Regions from separate parts of the Homo sapiens genome. Here region 2 is linked to region 1. Evidence: fine-mapped QTL for protein levels in blood plasma. A gene starts in region 1. The other region holds a variant in brackets. All regions are shown on one strand. Distances are from middle to middle.

Region 1 (4,405 bases):
TTGAATTCCAGCTCTGCCACTTACAGTTTTCAACGCCCAGATTCTTCATTTGTAAAATATGGTTAAACCTTCCTTGTTTTGAGAACCAAATGACATGAATATTGTGAAACTCTTACATAGAACATAGGATATAGAATACTTAAAAAAAGAGTAGTTGTTGACTGCAAACAGTAAAACAAAAGAATAAATAAGTCAGTCAATGGGGTAGTCAATGGCTATTTTCTTATTCAAAAGAAAAGTGAAGCTAGAATAATTTTAATGGGAGATTTTAAAGATTTTCTAACACATAATCTTATTTTTTTTAAAAAAAAAACAGCCCACAATTTTCAGCAGTTTTTACTTTCTTTTTTCTATTTACTAGCATCATTTGACATAAGTAGTGGAAATGAGCTTCTGAAAATATACTTAATTTTCATATTATAAATCTTATTTTCTATAGTTTTATTAGGAGACAGTGTTATAACATTTTATATCTGGCAGAAACTCGAATACAGTAATTTTAATTTATTCATTAATAATGAATAAATTAGATGAGATACGCAAGGCTCAGAAATATTAAGAATTGCTCCAAACACCCAGATATTGTGGAGCAGAGTCAGGATGGCAGCTGCAACCTTCTGACTTCCAATCCAGGGCTCTTCATACAAGAAGGCTGTCCTGTATATGTGACAGATACAAGTTCCTATCTGAACACTGTCTTTATTAACAAGTTTTCGTGTGCATAAATGGGTGCCTTTGAAGATCTGGATACTTAATTGGGGAGCATCATCTGGAGTGTTCATGTTGGCTAAAGTAGCTCTTGTCAGGAATACGTATACCAGCAGATGCATCAGTTAGAATATTCTTTTCTCCAATGGGTTTAAGACATACTTTCCTAAGAATTGAGTTTCTGAAACACTGAACAACACCCAAACCCTGCAATCCAAATTTGTTTTTGCCTATTACACTGAAGTCTCTCTGTTAACAGGCATATATAGAAGACAACCATTTTTTTCAATATAATATTTCATAAGTTAGATGAAATCTTTTGTTCCATTATATAAAGTTCAGAAAATCAACATAAAATTAATAATGATGTTAAAGAAACTACTGGAAACCAGATAAATACAATACAATCTATAATTGTTTTCAAGTTTTTTGGACATTTCGCATACTTCTCCAAGTTTTCTACATTATGTTATAAAGTTCTAATAAGTTCATTTATGTGAAAAAATTAACTTTTTTTGATACTTGATATTTATATTATTACTAAAAAGCACTTCATCCGAGAGAAAGTTTCAAAGAAAGCCTTCCTTTTATAGGAAGAGGAGAGGAACATTTAAACTATGTATTATTACCAAATTGATATTCAAAAAATATATTCAACTTCAAAAGGCAAATGACTAGTTTAGACATGCTTGAGAGAGAGACATTCACTTTAAGGTTCTGGGACAACTCCTTTGATATATCTCCATCTTAAAAACAAGCAAACAAACTCTTGTTTGGAGAGGGTATTTAGAGCCATAAATAATTTTTTACTGGGTCTATTTTTGAGTTGGAGCAGGAGTAAGAAATACATTTTATATGGAATTTTAAATCACTTTTCAATTTATGAACCTAGCCTAGAAAGTCTGTGTAAAATGAAATATTTTAAAAGTTACAGTATTATCTGTATCTTCATTTCTATATGTATGTATCTATCATCTGTGTACCTACTCATCTATCTATCTAATTATTCTTTCTTTCCAGCAAATGTTCACTTCTGGTTTCCCTACGTCTGCCTGGAAGTGGGGGCAGTATGGCAGTATGGAAGACCTAGAAAGGGACAAGGAGAGCTACAATAACAGCGGTCTAAATATATCCTAGGATGAAAAGGTGAGGAAGGAAACAGGCGCAGAAGTGTTATAAGAAACCAAAGCGGCCTTTTGAGAAGGGATGTAAGAGCAGGCCCCTGAGCAGTTTCACTTCCTCTGGGCGCCCAGCAGAGCGGAGCCCTGGCCTTGCGGGCATGAGCCCCGGGGCTGCGTTTCCTGAGACCTGGCCGCAGCCTCCGCGGGTGGCAAGCGGGCTGGGGAGAGCCGAGGGCCAAAGGAAGAGAAAATCGCGGGGAGTCTCTGGCCGGGAGAGTCCAGGTAGCGCTCGGCGGGCAGCAGTGCGCAGGCCCCTCGGCTTCAACCGCCACAATGCTGCCAGCAGCGCCAGGCAAGGGGCTTGGGAGCCCGGACCCCGCCCCCTGCGGCCCAGCGCCCCCAGGTGGGTAGTCGCGCATTCGGAGGGGCTTGACGCCGAGGCCGGGCTACGGGGCTCTGCGGAGACCACGGGCCATCGTTAGACAACTGCACTCGGGCACTGAGGCCAGGGCGTCCCTGAGACAGGGCTTCTCCTTTTTATCCTGCCGCCAGGCAGCCCAGAGGGTTCTTCTGTCCCTGACTTCTCTGAGGGGCATCTGGACGCCACGAGGAGGGAGCGCGCTGGGAGTTCTGGCCAGCGGGCTACCCTCAGTGTCTGCAACTTCTGAGGAGCTGGAACTTTCCCCAGCACCCGGGTCAGGGTCCTGTAGTTTCTAAAATCACTTTGCAACCTGTTTTAAAGCAATGCGCGTTTAAAATTATACGTAATTATTTTCAACAGTCGGTAAGCACAGAAAAACCGCTCATGTGTAGCGTCACGCATTTACCTGCCCGGCCTGACAAATCCCAGCCTGGTGAATTGGTAGCCCTGCTTCTTGGCAGGTGGCTTTGCAGAGAAACTCTACCAACACCACCTCCCTACTCCACTGGCTTTACTAACTTGGTCAAAGGAAAACGGTCAACTTGGTTGAATGCAGAAGTAGATTTATATTTTCAAATGGACGTTAAGGCAGTTTTATTTAGTTCTTTTTGAAGCATTTCAAATGCATTTGCAAATTACTCAGTGATATAAAAATGTTTTTTAAATTAAAAAACTTCACTTAGGTATTAATATTACTGGAGTGTTCGTGGTGAGAAATGCAACAAGAAAGTATATTCTGAGTGAAAGTTTCTTAATTTGCTGAATAGAAATAAATTTCTCATACCTTTCTAGAATTTTTTAGGTAATGTAATTTTGGTTGTAGCTATTTCTGTTGGCTAGTGCATTTTTACATAAATAAGCTTTAGGGATTGCTTTCAGTTAAATAAGAAGTATATTTGTGTCAATGAAAAGTGACAAGAAAGGACTTAGAGCCCATAACTTAATATTATTAATATTTTAACTATTGCATATTGACATTCTTGAAAACTGTGGCTCTGATGGTCTTCAGCAGAGCAGACTTTGCTAGCATCTATAAATAAACCAACCATGTCTTTCAAACTTTGAGCAGGTTACCTCTTTTGTAATTTCAGTTTAACAATTTTGTTAGAGAATGGGGTACAGTTTGTTTCAAACTTCTAGATTAAACAGTTTAGGCAGAAAATGCCTTTTATTTCACTTGATACTAAGCAATACTTTGAGGCACTTGCTATTGTGAATAATGCAAGAGTAATGTGAATCAATATTTATAGCATTCCAATTATTCTTGTTCCTCCCATGCATTCCGCTCCCCCCCCGCCCCGCCCCTCCCAACTCCTTGGGTCCTTCTCCATGCAGTATTTATCACTTGCTTCAGTTACTTCCTTTTCTGGCCAACATAATGAAACTTTTCTAAAAACGAATTGTCTTTTGACATTATCCCATGCCCATATTCTTGATATGAGTAATCTTCTAGCTTTTATAAATCCAGTGGTTTGTGTGTGTGTGTGTGTGTGTGTGTGTGTTTTTTTTTTTTTAATGAAGAGCTCCCTCTCTCTCCAACAACTATCTTAATATGGCACATTGGGGGTCAATTGGTCCAACTGCCTCATTTAGAGAAGAGAGCACTGAGATCCAGAGTGTGAGTTGCTCATGGTTTCATAACTAGTAATTATTTGAAGGTCACCCATTCATTAACTTAACAAACTTTTATTCCCTGCCAAGAGTCATGTAGTAGTAATAAGAATGTAAAATGGTAAACACAGTTTCATGCCCAGGAAGGTATATTTCTAGCAGGAGATAGAATGTACTGCTAGACAACATTAGTGTATACTGCCATCAGAGATTTATTAACTGTTGAGTATCGACTTGTTCTTTAATGGAAGCAAGAAAAATAGAATACCCAGTTCTCTAAAACAAGGTAAAAATGATGCACAATGGGTGAAAGTTCTAGTTAGAATGTATTTTCTGGTTTGTATTTAACTATATATTACTATCAATGTCCAAAAGAGAGATTCTTCCTGTTGTATTCCAAAACTAATGATTTTAAAAATTTAATTTTAACTGCTGTTTTAATTAGGGAGTGATTATTTATTAAATCACAGATTTTTCTCCACACCATAGTTTTTTTTAAATTTTTATTGATATTATTGGATGCATCTGATGAAACTTTAATAAA
Region 2 (4,405 bases), 250 kb after region 1:
GGAAAAATAATTTCATTTCCAAGTACTTTGTAGCTTCAAACCTCAGCAGAATTTTAAAAACTTATCAATTAATGTAATTTTTATTTGAAGAATTTATTATCTGAATAGATCTTTGGATTCAGGTCATTTCCCATATGAATGACGCCAGCTTTTTCCTCTTAACCATTCTCAGTTATATCTTAACAATATTGGCAAAAAAGCATAGAGACCACGTTATTAAAATTTTTAAAGCATTGCATTTTAAAGACTTTTAAAACTAGCAAATAGAAAAAAATCAAGTACCTCTTACAACATTTATTTTAATATCCTAACGTATAGTCATACATTATATATTCCTCAATATATTTTATTTTAGAAAAAATGTAAGTAAGCCACAAACCCAGAACTTGCCAGTTAGTTATATTTAGCATGTTTTCCATGTACTAACTTGAAGCAGAAAACTGGTTTTCAACCAAAAATATGATTTTATGTGTATACTTTTTCTCAAACACGTCAAACTTTGAAACATATTTTGCCTCTTCTGTTTAAAAGAGCACAGTTGAAGGGAGTACTCTTTGTCTTGACAGCATCTGGCAAATCATACATTTTTAATTACTAATTTTTGATCAGATGGGGGGAAATTTTCATCTAAAAAACGTCTCCGGGGTTAATCACAGATATGTCCTTGATCTTATATTGGTTTAAATAATATAAAAACCAAAGACAGAAATCTAGGATAACTGTCGGGATGTTTCTGCCAATCACAGTGGTCCAGCACCATCCAGTTAAAACACGTTCACTCCCACAGGCCTCAGCTCAATTATCCCAGGAAATTCTGTCGAACTGCTAAAAGGAACAAGAGATACAACTGTGTTGGAAATGTTCTAATTTCCCTTTTAATCCTCTCCCTCTATCTCCTTCTTTACCTTTATAAGATAATAGTTATGGAGGGGAAGTGGCAGTAGTGCTGTAAGGAACCACGCAATAGATTGAAGTTCAAGGCTTCTCGGTTTAAATCACATCTCTGCTAACAACAACTCTGAGATCATTGCAAAATTACTTAGCCTTTTTACAAGCTAGTTACTTCCAACTCCCTCATCTATAAACATATGAGGTTGGACTAAATCTCCAAAGCCTTTTCCAGTTCCCAAACCCTGTAATTCACACTGCCCATAAAAAATAAATGTAACTCTGGGATGTTCATTTTCTAAAGTAAAGTTGTAAAGAGTCTGGACTTTTTTATTAACAAATGCCAGAAGCTATATGGAACTTTGTGGGTCCTCAATAAATATCAAACAATCAACTTTATCTTTCATCTGCAAAATGGGGTGAGTAATGCTGACTTGTCTCCCAGAATTTCGTGTGAGAAATAATAAATGAGAACAAAGCACTTTTCAGATAATGAAGTAATTCGAATAAGCTGTTTTAATAAGTCTGCGGTCTAGATAGATGATGCAAGAATAAAGTGTCTTTTTTATTATTACATCTCTGAAATACAAGAGTCTTTTTACCTATTTAAGGAGAAACAGTCATTATCCTTGCTTATCATCAAAAAGTCAGCATGGGTAATTTCTGTGCAAATGGAATTTTTCATATGATTTTAACATTTATCGCTTTTAACACAATGCAGCTTTTATTCTTACCTGATATCAAAATGGAATCATATCTTGATTTAAATAGTTTAATGAGGCATTGCATCAGCATTATACTACTCTGCTCAATGAAAATGCTTTCTGAAATGACTGATAAGCTGCACAAATGAGAAAATTGTAAATTTGATAATCTTCCTACTCAAAAGTAATACAATTCAGGAACTGATACTCAGGAAAATGATATATTGCATTCTGGCTTCCTGGAGACTTCTACAGTATGGATTTTTTGAACGTTTATGTTCAGTAAATAATATGTTCTATACTTTTTACAGTGTTTCAACAAAAGACAGCCAGAAGACAATCTGATGATGACAAGTTC[T/C]GTGGTCTTCCTAAGAAACAAGGTACTAACACTAACTTCAATCTATTTAGTAATCTCTAGGTAAAATATCAAGAAATCTTATGAATACAGAGTAAAGCCTCCTAGGACAGAAGTATGTAATTGTGTGCTTTATAAATCTTACTCTTTTTTTTATTATTATTATACTTTAAGTTTTAGGGTACATGTGCACATTGTGCAAGTTAGTTACATATGTATACATGTGCCATACTGGTGTGCTGCACCCACTAACTTGTCATCTAGCATTAGGTATATCTCCCGATGCTATCCCTCCCCACTCCCCTCACCCCACAACAGTCCCCAGAGTGTGATATTCCCCTTCCTGTGTCCATGTGATCTCATTGTTCAATTCCCACCTATGAGTGAGAACATGCGGTGTTTGGTTTTTTGTTCTTGCGACAGTTTACTGAGAATGATGATTTCCAATTTCATCCATGTCCCTACAGAGGATATGAACTCATCATTTTTTATGGCTGCATAGTATTCCACTGTGTGTATGTGCCACATTTTCTTAATCCAGTCTATCATTGTTGGACATTTGGGTTGGTTCCAAGTCTTTGCTATTGTGAATAATGCCGCAATAAACATACGTGTGCATGTGTCTTTATAGCAGCATGATTTATAGTCCTTTGGGTATATACCCAGTAATGGGATGGCTGGGTCAAATGGTATTTCCAGTTCTAGATCCCTGAGGAATCGCCACACTGACTTCCACAATGGTTGAACTAGTTTACAGTCCCACCAACAGTGTAAAAGTGTTCCTATTTCTCCACATCCTCTCCAGCACCTGTTGTTTCCTGACTTTTTAATGATTGCCATTCTAACTGGTGTGAGATGGTATCTCATTGTGGTTTTGATTTGCATTTCTCTGATGGCCAGTGATGGTGAGCATTTTTTCATGTGTTTTTTGGCTGCATAAATGTCTTCTTTTGAGAAGTGTCTGTTCATGTCCTTCGCCCACTTTTTGATGGGGTTGTTTGTTTTTTTCTTGTAAATTTGTTTGAGTTCATTGTAGATTCTGGATATTAGCCCTTTGTCAGATGAGTAGGTTGCGAAAATTTTCTCCCATTTTGTAGGTTGCCTGTTCACTCTGATGGTAGTTTCTTTTGCTGTGCAGAAGCTCTTTAGTTTAATTAGATCCCATTTGTCAATTTTGGCTTTTGTTGCCATTGCTTTGGTGTTTTATACATGAAGTCCTTGCCCATGCCTATGTCCTGAATGGTAATGCCTAGGTTTTCTTCTAGGGTTTTTATGGTTTTAGGTCTAACGTTTAAGCCTTTAATCCATCTTGATTATCTCAATATTTGCAGAAAAAGCCTTTGACAAAATTCAACAACGCTTCATGCTAAAAAATCTCAGTAAATTAGGTATTGATGGGACATATCTCAAAATAATAAGAGCGTATCTATGACAAACCCACAGCCAATATCATACTGAATGGGCAAAAACTGGAAGCATTCCCTTTGAAAACTGGCACAAGACAGGGATGCCCTCTCTCACCACTCCTATTCAACATAGTGTTGGAAGTTCTGGCCAAGGCAATGAGGCAGGAGAAGGAAATAAAGGGTATTCAATTGGGAAAAAGAGGAAGTCAAATTGTCCCTGTTTGCAGACGACATGATTGTATATCTAGAAAACCCCATTGTCTCAGCCCAAAATCTCCTTAAGCTGATAAGCAGCTTCAGCAAAGTCTCAGGATACAAAATCAATGTACAAAAATCACAAGCATTCTTATACACCAACATCAGACAAACAGAGAGCCAAATCATGAGTGAACTCCCATTCACAATTGCTTCAAAGAGAATAAAATACCTAGGAATCCAACTTACAAGGGATGTGAAGGACCTCTTCAAGGAGAACTACAAACCACTGCTCAAGGAAATAAAAGAGGATACAAACAAATGGAAGAACATTTCATGCTCATGGGTAGGAAGAATCAATATCGTGAAAATGGCCGTACTGCCCAAGGTAATTTATACATTCAATGCCATCCCCATCAAGCTACCAATGACTTTCTTCACAGAATTGGAAAAAACTACTTTAAAGTTCATATGGAACCAAAAAAGAGCCCGCATTGCCAAGTCAATCCTAAGCCAAAAGAACAAAGCTGGAGGCATCACGCTACCTGACTTCAAACTATACTACAAGGCTACAGTAACCAAAACAGCATGGTACTGGTACCAAAACAGAGATATAGATCAATGGAACAGAACAGAGCCCTCAGAAATAACGCCGCATATCTACAACTATCTGATCTTTGAGAAACCTGAGAAAAACAAGCAATGGGGAAAGGATTCCCTATTTAATAAATGGTGCTGGGAAAACTGGCCAGCCATATGTAGAAAGCTGAAACTGGATCCCTTCCTTATACCTTATACAAAAATCAATTCAAGATGGATTAAAGACATAAATCTTACTCTTAATCTCACACAATATA

Which allele goes with the higher level. Alleles are on the strand shown, and positions count from the first base shown. The strength of an association depends on the size of the effect and on how common the allele is.
For the plasma level of the protein whose gene starts at base 2,012 in region 1, C is the high allele of the variant in region 2 and T is the other (moderate association).

What was found. PIP is the chance, under the fine-mapping model, that this variant and not a neighbour inherited with it causes the effect. The UK Biobank Pharma Proteomics Project read protein levels with antibody pairs (Olink). The fine-mapping took linkage between variants from a reference panel, not from the people measured, so its PIPs are less certain.
Region 2: its variant is fine-mapped to the plasma level of the BANK1 protein (UK Biobank, PIP above 0.99). The variant lies in the coding sequence of BANK1. If it changes the protein, the assay may bind it differently, which can mimic a change of level.

What each region holds. Positions count from the first base shown.
Region 1 is chr4:101,788,719-101,793,123 of GRCh38, forward strand. It overlaps BANK1 (B cell scaffold protein with ankyrin repeats 1), which reads left to right and starts at 2,012. Exons shown (of 17, transcript NM_017935.5): 1 at 2,012-2,232. The coding sequence starts at 2,163. RefSeq lists a silencer at 2,099-2,288.
Region 2 is chr4:102,041,936-102,046,340 of GRCh38, forward strand. BANK1 (B cell scaffold protein with ankyrin repeats 1) reads left to right here. Exons shown (of 17, transcript NM_017935.5): 11 at 1,904-1,972. Among named protein-coding and RNA genes, the nearest start is that of BANK1, 250 kb to the left of the region's middle. The variant T/C (reference allele first, on the strand shown) is at 1,951.